Regions from separate parts of the Homo sapiens genome. Here regions 2, 3 and 4 are each reported to be linked to region 1. Evidence: microRNA targets listed by miRTarBase, many of them from high-throughput screens and not tested one by one. Region 1 holds a microRNA gene; each other region holds the end of a gene's coding sequence.

Region 1 (3,185 bases):
CGCATTCTTTGCCCAGGTAATACCCTGTTCCAGACCCTGCCTTTATAGTTCCTTTAGTTTGGTGACTTTTATATCCAATTCTGCCTGGCACCCTCTTGTTAGGCTGGACCTGAGTATGACCAAGATTGCTCTACTTCTGGAAACTTACGTGGCAACATCCCACCATGTAACTCTAACTTGTCCTTTCAGTGTTCACACTTCCTTACTAACACCAAACTGATTCATTTTTACATATCATCAAGACCTTCAGTACCCTATATATTTCCATGCTTTCCACCCATTTTTAACCTGAACTTTTCTTTCCTGGCTCTTATTTACTCTTCTATCTTGTGCATTCTTTCTTCTGCCCTATGGCTCTACTTACGTTTCTCTTAAAATTTCTGATGATCTTTTTCATGCCAGGTCCAATGAACAATTTTTTTTTTCTGATTCTCCTCCTCTTTCTTGAAACTTCCTTCTCTTGATTTCTATGATATCATTCTTCTTTGTTTTATGTCCTACTCATCTTATCCTAGTTCTCCTTTACAGTCTTCCCTTCTTTTATTTAGCACTAAAAATTATGTTTTATCAAGGATTCTTCCTTGGTTCTTTGCTCTTTTCATTTCTAGTTTGCTTTGTTTAAACTTCAATAAATGTAATTATATGTTGATGATTTCCAAATCATGATATTTGTCTTACTTCTCTGTGCAGAGCTCTAAAACTATATAGACTGCTTTCCACTGGGTGTCTTTTCATGTTCAGCAGACATTTCAATCCACAGTGTCCAAAATTAATTTTGTCATCTCTTTGAAACTATTTACCCTCTGGTATTTTTTGTGTTTAAATATGGTACCAACATGCAACCAGCCACCCAAGGCTGGATTATTAAATTCTTTTTAAAGCTTGGTTCACTACAGATCTCATTGATTCAATTCATAGATGGCTCAAATTGTTGTCCTCATGAGTCCATTTTAATTATTACGCTTCTAATTAATGTGCCTGCCTTTCTCATCTGAACTCTTGAGAGGTGTTTTAATTTTTCTGCCTCAGGTCTTCCTTCTGGCTGCCATTGGACAATTCCTCTCTCTGGAATGAATAACAACCTCTGAAGACATCCCACTCCACCTCTACATGTCACATGATATTCACCTATTTTTTGACCAGTTATCACTTACATAATCTTTATCTCAGCATTTTAGGAAGGCTTTTTCGCTATGCAAATCTCTGTATTTTATAATCCTGTATAATTATATTTTATAATCCTGTATAATTATATTTTATAATCCTATGCAATCTGTATTATCTTCTGTATTTTATGCTTTTCAAACCTTTATTGTACTCTATTTGTTCTACTTTATTTAGTTTGGACAAGCTGAAGCAGGTGACATGGTTCATCTGTATCCTTGCCTGATGCATCACTGAAATGTAAATGAATTGGTGGTGAGAGAATAATTCAAAGGACTCAGTGTTTGAACCAAGCCTAGTCAATGCTGTCAATGCTGCTGTATCTTGGGTGTTTGTGGAGGCACTAAGGTAGTGGCCAGGACTGAAGAAATTGGGAACTTGACCTTATAAGGCAGCTACAAAACTTGCCCTCTATCATTCTAACCAACCCTTCCAAACTTCTAAAAATCTCAGCTCCACTTCTGCAAGTTTATCTTCCCTGCTTGCATAAAATTGCAGTGCCTAATTTGAACACCTTCGGTATTCATCAAAAATACCAAAGGTGCTCAAATTAGACATTGCATTTTTTGCGCATGTCAAGTTGAAATCTATTCATGGATCTTTAGCTCCTTAAGAGAACATGCATATAACATTACTTTTTACTAGCATTCTTCCAAGTACTTTACATGCCCAACGAGAAAGCATAATATTATCCCCATTGTACAGCTGAAGAAACAGGCATAGAGAAGTTAAGTAATCCGTTGGTGATTACAAAGCTAGAAAATGGCAGAGCCAGGAACTTGAACCCTGTTTTTCTTGGCCATTAGGCTTGCTGGAAGGGGATACTAAGATGTAGGAAGGGAAGGTGGAGATGAGGGTCTTTGTTGATTTTCCTAAAAAAGTTGGCGTTGTACTGGCATATGGAGAGAAGTTGATAAGTAAATATTAAATACATACATGTTGGTTTTGAAATATATGATAAGACTTTTTAAAGTCTACCTGAAGAACTGGCAGTATTATTGGTTCTCCCACAGAATTTTCTTATGAAAGACATAATTTTCCTGAAATGTGAACATAGAGGCATTTGTGATGCCTATTATCCAGCTGTCATCTGTCTATTCATGTTGTACACATCTACTATAATTTAAATAGGAGAACAACAAAATGAAAGACTTAGTTTTCAAAACATAAGTAATGGAAGAAAGTGAATTTGATATATTTTTATGACAGCTTTTAGTAAATACTTTTAAAATGAACTGAAGTTAATTTATGCTTGAGTGGGATTTCTTTCTCTTTTTGGAAAGTTTTTATAAATAAATGAAAGAAAATATGTTCTTACTAATAACAGTTTCCCCTCCATCTTTCCCCCATCTCCTTAGGATACTTGTGGAATGTCTCTAGAGTGAGTCGGCCACTGAGAGGACTTTGTATTGTGTTAACTTCATTATATTGAAATTTTGGAATAGCCTCAGGGAATAAGGGACAGAAAAAAATGGGGCAATATTCACCCGGTGGCATTCATTTTCAGTAAAGAGCAAGTAAAACCCTTTATTAAATTTAATGTTTTATTTTTGCTTAGTTTGGAATATACATGTGTATTTCACATATATAAAAATAGAACTTTTTTTACTAAACTGGTCCAGATCTAGATATTTATAGGCATATGGAATTTGGAGGTTACAAAATTAACTTCTAAGAATAAATATTTCCTACTCCTCAAGTATCATGTAAGAATAATTTTTCTATGACAATAAAAAAAGCGAAACACTACAATCTGACCCATATTTTCTTGCCACAGATTAGCATTTATGTGATCTTATTCTAAGCCTATGTGGTACAGAAAGGTAAAAATGCTAAAAGAATGACTATATCACATATATACTAATATTTCAATGTTTAATTTTCTGAAAAAAAAACTGTACGTTTTGTAAATAGCTGTAGCAGCTATAGTCAAGATGATTTCTTGAGAAGAAATTACCTGTTCTTTAAAAAATGTTCTTGCCAAAATAATGATTGTACATAGCTCAAAAATCAGCTATTAT
Region 2 (3,159 bases), not on the chromosome of region 1:
TCTTAAAGATTCTATTCCCAAGTCCATTTCTTTCACATCTAGAAACTTAGGCTTCTTTCCTTCCGTTACTTCCAGTGCTGGCTGAAGATGCAATCAAGGCCGCCCTGGCTGATTACAAATTGAAACAAGAACCCAAAAAAGGAGAGGCAGAGAAGAAATGAGCCCTCCCTCGGCGAAGCCTCCAGCAGGCCACACCAGCTGTTTCCCACCTGCTGTGCAGTCACCTTAGATGTTCAGAAGCCGCTTCCTCTCCACTGAAGAGCTATGAGATACGCACAATACTTGCTGTTCACGTTATGACTCTCATGCAAGCAAAATACACAGTTTCATTGTTCTGAATCCTGTGGTTTCTTTCAGCCCACTTTTATCGCCTTAACCTAGTTAATGTATATTTTGAATTGTGTGTATGACCTCAGAACTGAAATTGATAATGAAGTTGCAAGTTTTGATAGCCCGTGAAGTGCATAAGTATCTAATTTTACCTGAATTGATTTGGGGGGAAATTACCAGTAGAATGCCTTGGTCTGAATATTTGATAGAACCAATTGTTGTACATAAAACAGATTGCGCATATATATATATGTATAAAAAATAATAAAATAATGGAAGATGATGGTGTTCTCTAGTAAGCCTTGTCTCTTGGGCCCATCATTCACCCTGAAGTGGTGCCCAAAGCCCCTTGGGGTTCCCAGAGGTTGGACCGCAGTGACATACACAGCTCTCCAAGCAAACAAAGACAAATATACGTAATATTTTTTGGAACAAGGATGAAAGGAGATGATTATCGCTTGTCATTGTTCTTTGTGTGATAGTAGTTGAAAGCTCAAAGTAAGTCTTGAAGATTCTTTCTGTAATTTCACTGGTTGCTCAAATCTAAAAAGCATTAGCTTGGCACCCTAAAGCGGTAGACCAGATACATGAAGAGCACCTCGGGAATGAGTTTAAAATGCGGATTTCTAGGCCCAAGTTTCTGACTTCTGTCTGGGCAGGTAATTCCAGAGCCCCTGACTTTTAAGAACCTCTTGGGTTTTTTGTGGTCGTAGATGAGCCAAACTTTAGGGAAGAAACTTCTGAATGCTGTGTTCTGCATAGATGTAGTATCTTAAGTGGTTCATTCTGAACTATCTGTACCTGCATAGTACACCTAAGGTTGTTTAAAAAACATTCATCCAGCCGGGCGCAGTGGCTCACACCTGTAATCCCAGCACTTTGGGAGGCCAAGGCGGGTGGATCACGAGGTCAAGAGTTCAAGACCAGCCTGGCCAAGGTAGTGAAACCCCATCTCTACTAAAATTACAAAAATTAGCCAGGCATGGCGGCACGCACCTGTAATCCCAGCTGCTCGGGAGGCTGAGGCAGGAGAATCACTTGACCTGGGAAGTGGAGGTAGCAGTGAGCCAAGATCACACCAGTGCACTCCAGCCTGGGAGACAGAGCAAGACTCCGTCTCAAAGCCAAACAAACAAACATTCATCCCTGGCTTGGGCATAAGTCTAAGCACGGGCCCTCCTACCCTGATGTCTCCCTATTTTTAGCTACCCATAGTCATGCAAATCTCAATAAAGGATGCCCTATCTTCTAGTGAAAATGGGTTATTGAAATATTGACTGCCATAGTCTCAAATGTTCAGCTTCAAAAGTAAGATGTGTTTGTTTTTTCTGGTGGTGGTTTTTTTGTTCAGGTATAGGCTGGCTGCCTCTTAAATATACCTCCCTTGTTTTTTTTGTTGTTTTTTGTTTTTTTGTTTTAATGCTCTGGGTTCTGGTGGAGGGCACAGAACTTCAAAGACTGTTCCTTCTGTAGTCTGTGAAGGCAGCCACAGACCAGGGCCTTTATAGGAATCTCAAATTAGAACCCTGGGTAGAACCATGTAAAATTGTCCTGTGTGGCATGTTCTGCAATTTAATTCACAGTCCCTCTAGACTGAGCTTGTCTCTCCCTTCTTTATTACATGTGGCACCACCACAATTCCCCACCACTTTTCTTTGTGATTTTTTTAATTTAAATGAGACATTTCTGTCCCAGTGAACATCCTCAGAGTTGAACATCAGGAGGAGCTTATAAACAAAGCAATATTCCCAGAAGAGCCCAAGTCTCTAAACGTGGTTGTACTGCTAAAACAAATGGATATTTTTTAAATTCACATTAAAGACACTCTTTCCCCAAACAAATCTAGTTTGAGCCACATGAGGGCATCATGTGCCCTTCAGTGAACTCAAGTCTAGGGGTTTTTGCAGCCTCCAAATAGGTCTTAGCATCTCTAAATAAACCTGTCCATGGAAAACCTCCACAGATAAGTTAAAATGGTCTGTCAAGCACCTGTGCTCTGTTCCAGGCCCTTACATCTGTAATCCTGTTAATTCTCATGACAGCTGCCTGCAGTGGGCATTGATTCAAACAAGGACACTGGCTCAAGAAGCCAACTGACCCTCAGGCCAACTGGCTTGATCTGAGTGACCCAAAGCCCATTCTTCTGCCTCACCCCTCCTGGCAGAACACACCAGGGATTCAAACTGCACATCAGAGGCTCACCTGTGCCTTGAACATTCAATGAAGAAGCTGAACCAACACAGGTTGAGCCTGATGCATTCTCTTGGCCAACTGGCTGCCAAGCACCATGGCCCTCACGCCAACCCTGGCTCCCACCAGGAGCCTAATTAAATCCTGATGCCAAGTTAAATCCAATGCTCTGGAGGTGGGGCCTGGGCACTGGCATCACCTGATGGGCTGGGTGGGTTTATGGGCAGATGGATGGATGGGGAAGCAGAGGCTCCGAGAGGTGAAATGACTTGCCTCAAGGCACACAGCTAGGAAGTGGTAGAATTGAGCTCTGGCTGAGGTCTTCTGCCCACCTCCCACCCTCTCCTGAGTGCCACACTACAGCTATGACCACATCTCGGATGTAACCTTTCCTAAGTGTGATTCCTGGACCAGGGCCACCCGGGACCACATCCAAATGCACAGTTCTAGAACCTCACATTAAGCATTGTCTTGTAAAAACTACTTGGCCCTAGGATGAATTTTCTTAAAAAGACAAACAAATGAGGCACACTTCTCGATACTTCAGGCCCTTTGAACTTGAGGCAAGAGTGCAGACCTTGTGTCTATCTTCACGACAGAAGAGAAGACTTCTAGGTCCCACCAAGTTTTGGTGGTGTT
Region 3 (3,185 bases), not on the chromosome of region 1:
TCATAATTGCATTTAGTTTGATTGTATACACATACTTCCAGGACCTTACCTCGCTGTCAAAATCCCATCCTTACCCTGTTTAAACAGCAACTCACACTAAGGAGTTGCTTGTGATATTCTTCTGCACAAGGGTAGGACAGGCTGACCCTTGCCACTGCAAATACACAACTAAAGATCTACCAAAAATAACTGATGAAAAAAGAAAACCAATTTGCTAGACTCTTAGAAAAGTACACAGGCTTTAAATGGATTCTTGAGGAGCTGACCCCAGAGACAACCCATCCTAAATGTAAGTGAAATGAAATCCCTTTTCCTTATTACCCTAATTTAAGGCCTGGAAATGGGGTGGCAATAGTTCAATACTTATCCACAGCAGTATATTTTTAACACTGTAGTAATGAACCCGATGAGGAAGTTAAATATCTATAACCTTAAAAGCCATAATTAAAGTAAGAAAAAGCAATCCACACTGTACTTACAACTACGCAAACATGTACTGAAATAATACTGATGGCTGAACATAAGGCTGTAGGTGATGTTTCTATCTTTTAAATTTTTTTATATCATGGTTATTATATTTTCGATAGGAAAACAAATGATAAAGGCTTTAAGAATGACCGTGTACTTTAAATTTTAAATTAAAATAAATTTTTATTCAAAGCATCTTTTAAAATTACAGCATGTTTATTCTTATGCTGTTAACTCTGCCAAACTACAACTTAGCCATATGAAGCATAAAACACTTCAAAAATTTGAATGTAAACCATTTTTTAAAACAAAAAGCAGTCTTAACACACCTCAAATTTTAGATACCAATGTATTTTTCCAAGTATATAGCTTATATCAAAAAGAACATTTTAAATGTTTCTAAATAGTTGTGATAATTTCTTAAACTGTTGCAATTATACAAATAAAAAATGTTTATGAAAAAACTATTAGAGTTGACAAAAGCTGACTGGAGAAACAAGGAAAAACCCTTACTTTTGAAGGCCTTAAATGTTATCATCTGTGAATTGGCAAATATTTGTATTTGAAAAATTCTTACTACCCTTCCTTCTTTAGTTAAGTTGATCAAAGTTCAAATTTCCCAAGACTGATGAGTGTTGTTTTTAGTTCATTAAATCACATATTTGAGAGCAAAAATTCTAGAGGAAATGCTGAAACATAAACCAAGATAATTCAGATGCTATAGTCTCTCTTACCAGCTTATAAGTGCTCCAAATTAAAATTCTATATACCACATTACAAAAAAATTCTTAGACCATTACAAATATAAATTCTCTTATTACAAAAAAATCCCTAAAGATTTGTAATTTACTGTACAGAGGAATTACATTTTTAAAGTATGTCCTCATCATACACATTATTCGTAACTATCGTATCTTCTTTCATACTTTTTCTCCTCTTCAAGACATTTACATGCCTCCCCTTCCCCGTGGCTACATATTTTAAACTATCTGTGTACTATGACACATTGGGATTTTTGGATAAAGAAGCCTACTTTGTAATGTTTAAACTACATCTGTAGGAACGTCTTCAACTCAAAAAAGCTAAAAAGGCACTGAAGAGCCCATATTTCCCTCTATTACTCTGAGTTTTACTCCAATTAAGCGATCTGTAAGTTACCATGCTATGCATGTCATTTAGTTCTGTTTAGAACAAAAGCCAAAATGATGGAAGTTTTGCCTACATAAAGGAGGTGGTCTGCTCAGCTCTTGATTTTTCTGTTCATGCTTCAGTACATAAAGTGGTGTTTAATAACTTTATTTGGAAAAATGGCTTCAAACCACCACACAAGTTAACACACTTGCAGTTAAAACTATTTCAGAAGCCTACTTATTTGAGTAGCTAATATTTTCTGCAGTGTTTAACTGATAGCTAAATTTAGTGAACACAAAATAGCTTGGCATGTTACTCTGAAGTAAAGCAAGAAGGTGGCTTTATGCACTGAAAATATAAATATGGAGGCTTCCATTTGCTAATAATTCTAAACAAGCAGTACAATTAAAATGTAGTGTTTGCTAACAAAAGATCTAAAACATTTCACTACAAAACAACCCTGCAGGTGTCCCTTTAGTAAAAATCCAAGTGCCAAATCTCATTACAGGGCCCTTAATATGTATTTTTAAAATTACCAATTACTATGTTACCTAGACTTTGCAAGATTAATCACTCAATTTCAGCAAATGAGAAATATGAAATGTGCAAAAGTTCCCAAGTTAACATGCTAGGGATGACAAGTGCTTTTCAAACTTAAACATTATACTGAGTTGTAAAGCCCCAGATAGAATAAGACTGATTTTGCTCCAATTTCAAAAATTCTGAACTATTGTGCATCTTACCAAGAGCCTCAAATATCTATTTTCTTCTAAGTCCATTACTTAGAACATCTTCCAAAATAGCCTCCCATTTCTCTAGCCTTAGTGGGCACAGTATTTTGCAATTAAAATTATCTATCTTACATATTTTATACTTTCTTGCTTGCTTCAGTGTTTACAGTATTGTTAAACATACTAATATATATTGTTAAAAATGATCTTATAAATAATCTGTTTTAATCTTCTTTGGCTATTTGTACCATTCTGTTTTTCAAACAAGTGTCTTATTCAGAAAGTGCTTCCTGTGAGAACTGCTTCCAATGAATGCATTAAACTTGCAAAATCTAGCTTCCCACAATATGTAGTTTTCTACCCTGTACTGTGCAGTCCATATTTACAAAATATTTTAAACTTTACGATGAATTCATTTCCATATTAAAAAAGTGCAGTTCTCTCTCACCCCATATTCTGGGGCAATAACATTCTTCATAAATTTCTACAGAATAGCAGCCTATGATAAGCAAATAAGGTGCTTAGCTTATGCCCAAGGATCTACTTTTTAAGTATGCTGGGCAGTACTTTTGTACAGTGGAAGAGTCAGTGTCCAAGCTACTGTCGGAGTGGCGCCCCAGTCAGGTTGGCAAGCTCTATGAGCGCGAGGGCTCCATGCAGGCGCTCCCGCTGCTCCTGCAGCCGGCGCTGGGCCCCTCTCTTCTCGTCGTCCTCTTCATCAGACTGAAGGTATTCCAGAGGGTCCTGCTGCTCCTGATCAGCCTTCTGAACCAGCTTGCCTTTCAAAGTGGGGGTGCGCTGCTCTCTCATTTCCCAATACCTATGTGAAATGCAGCAACATTAGTTACATGGCAG
Region 4 (3,185 bases), not on the chromosome of region 1:
GGCGTGGTGGTGCGTGCCTGTAGTCCCAGCTACTTGGGAGGCTGAGGCAGGAGAATCGCTGGAACCCGGGAGGCGGAGGTTGCAGTGAGCCGAGATCGCGCCACTGCACTCCAGCCTGGCGACAGAACGAGACTGCATCTCAAAAAAAAAAAAAAAAAAGAAAAAAAGAAAAAGAAAAAGAAAAAAAGTAAGTACATAGCAAAAGTTCTGGGTAAAATCCATATATCAGCTGAACACTTTTTGAGTGCTTACTCTGCACCAGATTGTAGAAAGCATGAAAAGGGAAATTTGTAATTGAGTGGCAGTAGGTTGACCTGGAGGTGCACAGTCTGGTCCAGGCAGAAAAGACATTCAAATGAAGCTTTCTGAAAGAGCTGAGTTGAATCTGAGTCTTCAAGGACAGGCAGTAGTTGTCTACGTAAAGGAGGCAAGTCCTATTCTGAAGGCCAGAGCCATAGAAAAGCTTGGTACCATTGTGCCAGCACCCAGTTTAGTGGGGCAGGGATCAAAGTTGCACGTGGGCAGAGACAAGGTTGAAGCAGCAGGAAAGGGGGAGTCAGACACCAAGTAGGCTATGAACTCGACCAGGGTAAGGTGTGTATGTGCAGACTGCAGAGGGGTGTTCATGCTGACTTTATTTTATAAAACCCTCTGTGGCAATAACAATGGAAGTAGGCCCGAGTAGGTTAAGAATCAAGGCAAGGATGCCTGTTAGAAATAGTGAGTGATGATGTTTCAGAGTAAGGGAGAGCACATGGAAGAGTAGTTTTGAGAAATTTAGGAAATGGAGTAAGACTTGGTGACTGGATGTGAAAGTCGAGAGAAGACTCAATCCCAGGATGACACCTTTGGCACCTGCAGTGATGGTGGTGCCATTCATTTACCAACAGAAAACACAGGAGAGATGTCAGGGGTAGGAGGAGACGTTGAATTTAACAACTGATCTGCTACATCAAATTGTCAGTGGACCATCCACAGGTTCTGTTGTCAAGAGCATGGTATAGGGTACAGACCCTGACTTGGCAGTCACTGTCACATAAGTGACCCCTGGAGTTTGCATAGAACATGAAACTGGTAAGACAAGTAGGTAAAGGTGACACAACAGATTAGAAAGCTGCAAAATAATGAAGAGTAGGCATGGAGATGGGAAGAAATGACAAAGAAATGTGTCACATGAGCCAAGGAAATCAAATGTTTTCATCAGAGTATAATGAATAGGGTGTATAAGATTAGGTGAGAAAATTGTACACTGGGTTTGGCAACATAAAGGTATCAGTGCTTTCAGCCAGGCTGGTTTTAACATACTTTGAGGTAATTTTCAAATCCCCTGATAAACTATAAAGAACACGGCAAAAACAGGTTATTGAGCTGGTGCCAGATGATTAATCAATTATATCAGTACCTAATATACAGTAGGCTCTTATGTTTATTGTTGATCTACACCAAATAGAGTACCTCAGTGCTATGTAACTGGAAAATATGTTTTTAAAAAGGGGACAGGTGGGGCAGGTTAGGGGGCTGGTATATGACACTATAAAAATATACGTTAGATAAAAGAAGTGTACAACAGCAATAGACAAATGCTCACTTTAATCACAATTCTAAATTAATTATTTTCACATTAATATAGATATTTCCATAAACCAAGAAAAACTGAGTTATTATACATTTTTTAACAGCTAACATGATTTGAAAATTTTTTATTAAAAATTGATCAGAAGCTAGTTGAAATTCTCAATGTAAATATAAAATATTCATTACAATTGTTTTTCAAAGTAAATTCAGATCTAAGCTTCCTGAAAAGCTGTACTATCTCATATCATAATAGGGATGACTAAGTACTTGACAACTACTTTCTAAAGAACTTAACAAAAAGTGACTACTTGAAGATTACATTTACAACAGAAAGGCTAACATTCTCTGCGGAGCTCTCATTTTATCATGAAATGTGGACAATCAGGAACACGTGGATGAGTGGTATCAAGAAAAAGGGCATTTCAAAATATTTCCACTTTTATTAAAGGTTTTGACAATGAAGATTTCATAAAATGTCTTTAAATACTATTTTCTAGAGAATAACCATCTAAATCGGAGACATATGCCATAAAACTGCAACCATTTTAGTGTGTAAAATAATTCTAAGTTTGTACTATAAAAAGATTTGGCTAAAATACAAAACATCTTTGCGATAAAACTGACAACGTAGCTTAAGTAGCTTATAAGATTTCAGAAATGTCTTCTGAAAGAAATAAGAATGTTTTCCTCTGCCAGATAAAACTGAACAGTTAAAGTTAAGGTGCTATAAACTAGACAAAGCTAGAAAGGCACATCATGTAACTAGAAAAGAACAGCATGTGATGTGGACTTCATGTCGAACTGATAGAAAAACAGAATACGCTCTTCACAAGGAAAGGTATGAGAAGATAATTCTTATAAACAAACTTCTCATTGAAGTCTTGAAGAGTTTTACAGAGAACATAATCATAAAATGGCTAGAGGTCATTTATAGGACATGGTAATGGATTCCTTTATATTACAATACCTGCCTCAAATATAAACACAAATCAAATATAAACACCCTTGTAAAGCTGTGATTCTCCCAACCAAACATTCCTCCTGTACCACACTCAGGTGCTAGTGGCATTTGGATGCAAAGGTTTAACTCGTGCTAATCTGGACAAGCCAAGGCGGAGACTCTGATTGGGAGACTTCACAGACACTACCACCAGTGGGCTGCTGCTACTTCTGCTACCTCCAGATGCCGCTGAAAGGAAACATATGATGTGATGCTGATGATGTCAGAAATCTCTTAACAAAGATTAATTTATAAAATAAGCAGCAAAAAAAAGGTAGTTAAGCATTATTCTGCTTTCCAGTGTCTATCAAGCAATAAACTAGATCAAAAGAACAGAATGTTCTAAAGAGCAGAAATTAATACAGTATTGCCTATTTCCAAACATCCCAGAAGCCAAGGTAATGACACTAAAACCTCACCATGAAAGCTGAAAAAGGAAGGCTGGGAACAAATAATGCTAGTTGTAAAGGCATACAAAAATGCATATAATTATAATTTCTAAAGTAATAGAAAAAGCAAATGCATTTTTAAGGTCCTGCAATTTTTACAAGTAGTCCTTGAAGAGTCTATTTTTCAATTATTAAATACCTTTAAAAATGGCAAATATTGT

The links. Region 1 holds the annotated microRNA hsa-miR-4735-3p (AAAGGUGCUCAAAUUAGACAU, at 1,702-1,722, shown strand). A microRNA usually pairs through its seed, bases 2 to 8, with sites in the 3' UTR of a target mRNA and lowers its output. Matches are read on the target gene's strand: a 7mer-m8 pairs with bases 2 to 8, a 7mer-A1 pairs with bases 2 to 7 and ends in A, and an 8mer does both.
Region 2: miRTarBase lists ISCU as a target of hsa-miR-4735-3p. Seed matches in the 3' UTR shown: 7mer-A1 at 222-228.
Region 3: miRTarBase lists ZNF367 as a target of hsa-miR-4735-3p. Seed matches in the 3' UTR shown: 8mer at 2,844-2,851.
Region 4: the mRNA of RAD51AP1 is a reported target of hsa-miR-4735-3p. Seed matches in the 3' UTR shown: 8mer at 2,293-2,300.

What each region holds. Positions count from the first base shown.
Region 1 is chr1:196,580,954-196,584,138 of GRCh38, reverse strand. It overlaps MIR4735 (microRNA 4735), which reads left to right and starts at 1,658; the gene lies at 1,658-1,726. All of the region lies in intron 1 of KCNT2 (potassium sodium-activated channel subfamily T member 2), which reads left to right.
Region 2 is chr12:108,568,756-108,571,914 of GRCh38, forward strand. ISCU (iron-sulfur cluster assembly enzyme) reads left to right here. Exons shown (of 5, transcript NM_213595.4): 5 at 76-613. The coding sequence ends at 161. Among named protein-coding and RNA genes, the nearest start is that of ISCU, 7.7 kb to the left of the region's middle. RefSeq lists an enhancer at 181-330.
Region 3 is chr9:96,385,310-96,388,494 of GRCh38, forward strand. ZNF367 (zinc finger protein 367) reads right to left here. Exons shown (of 5, transcript NM_153695.4): 5 at 632-3,150. The coding sequence ends at 2,928. Among named protein-coding and RNA genes, the nearest start is that of SLC35D2-HSD17B3, 3.2 kb to the left of the region's middle.
Region 4 is chr12:4,558,436-4,561,620 of GRCh38, reverse strand. RAD51AP1 (RAD51 associated protein 1) reads right to left here. Exons shown (of 9, transcript NM_006479.5): 9 at 1,574-2,764. The coding sequence ends at 2,628. Among named protein-coding and RNA genes, the nearest start is that of DYRK4, 2.2 kb to the left of the region's middle.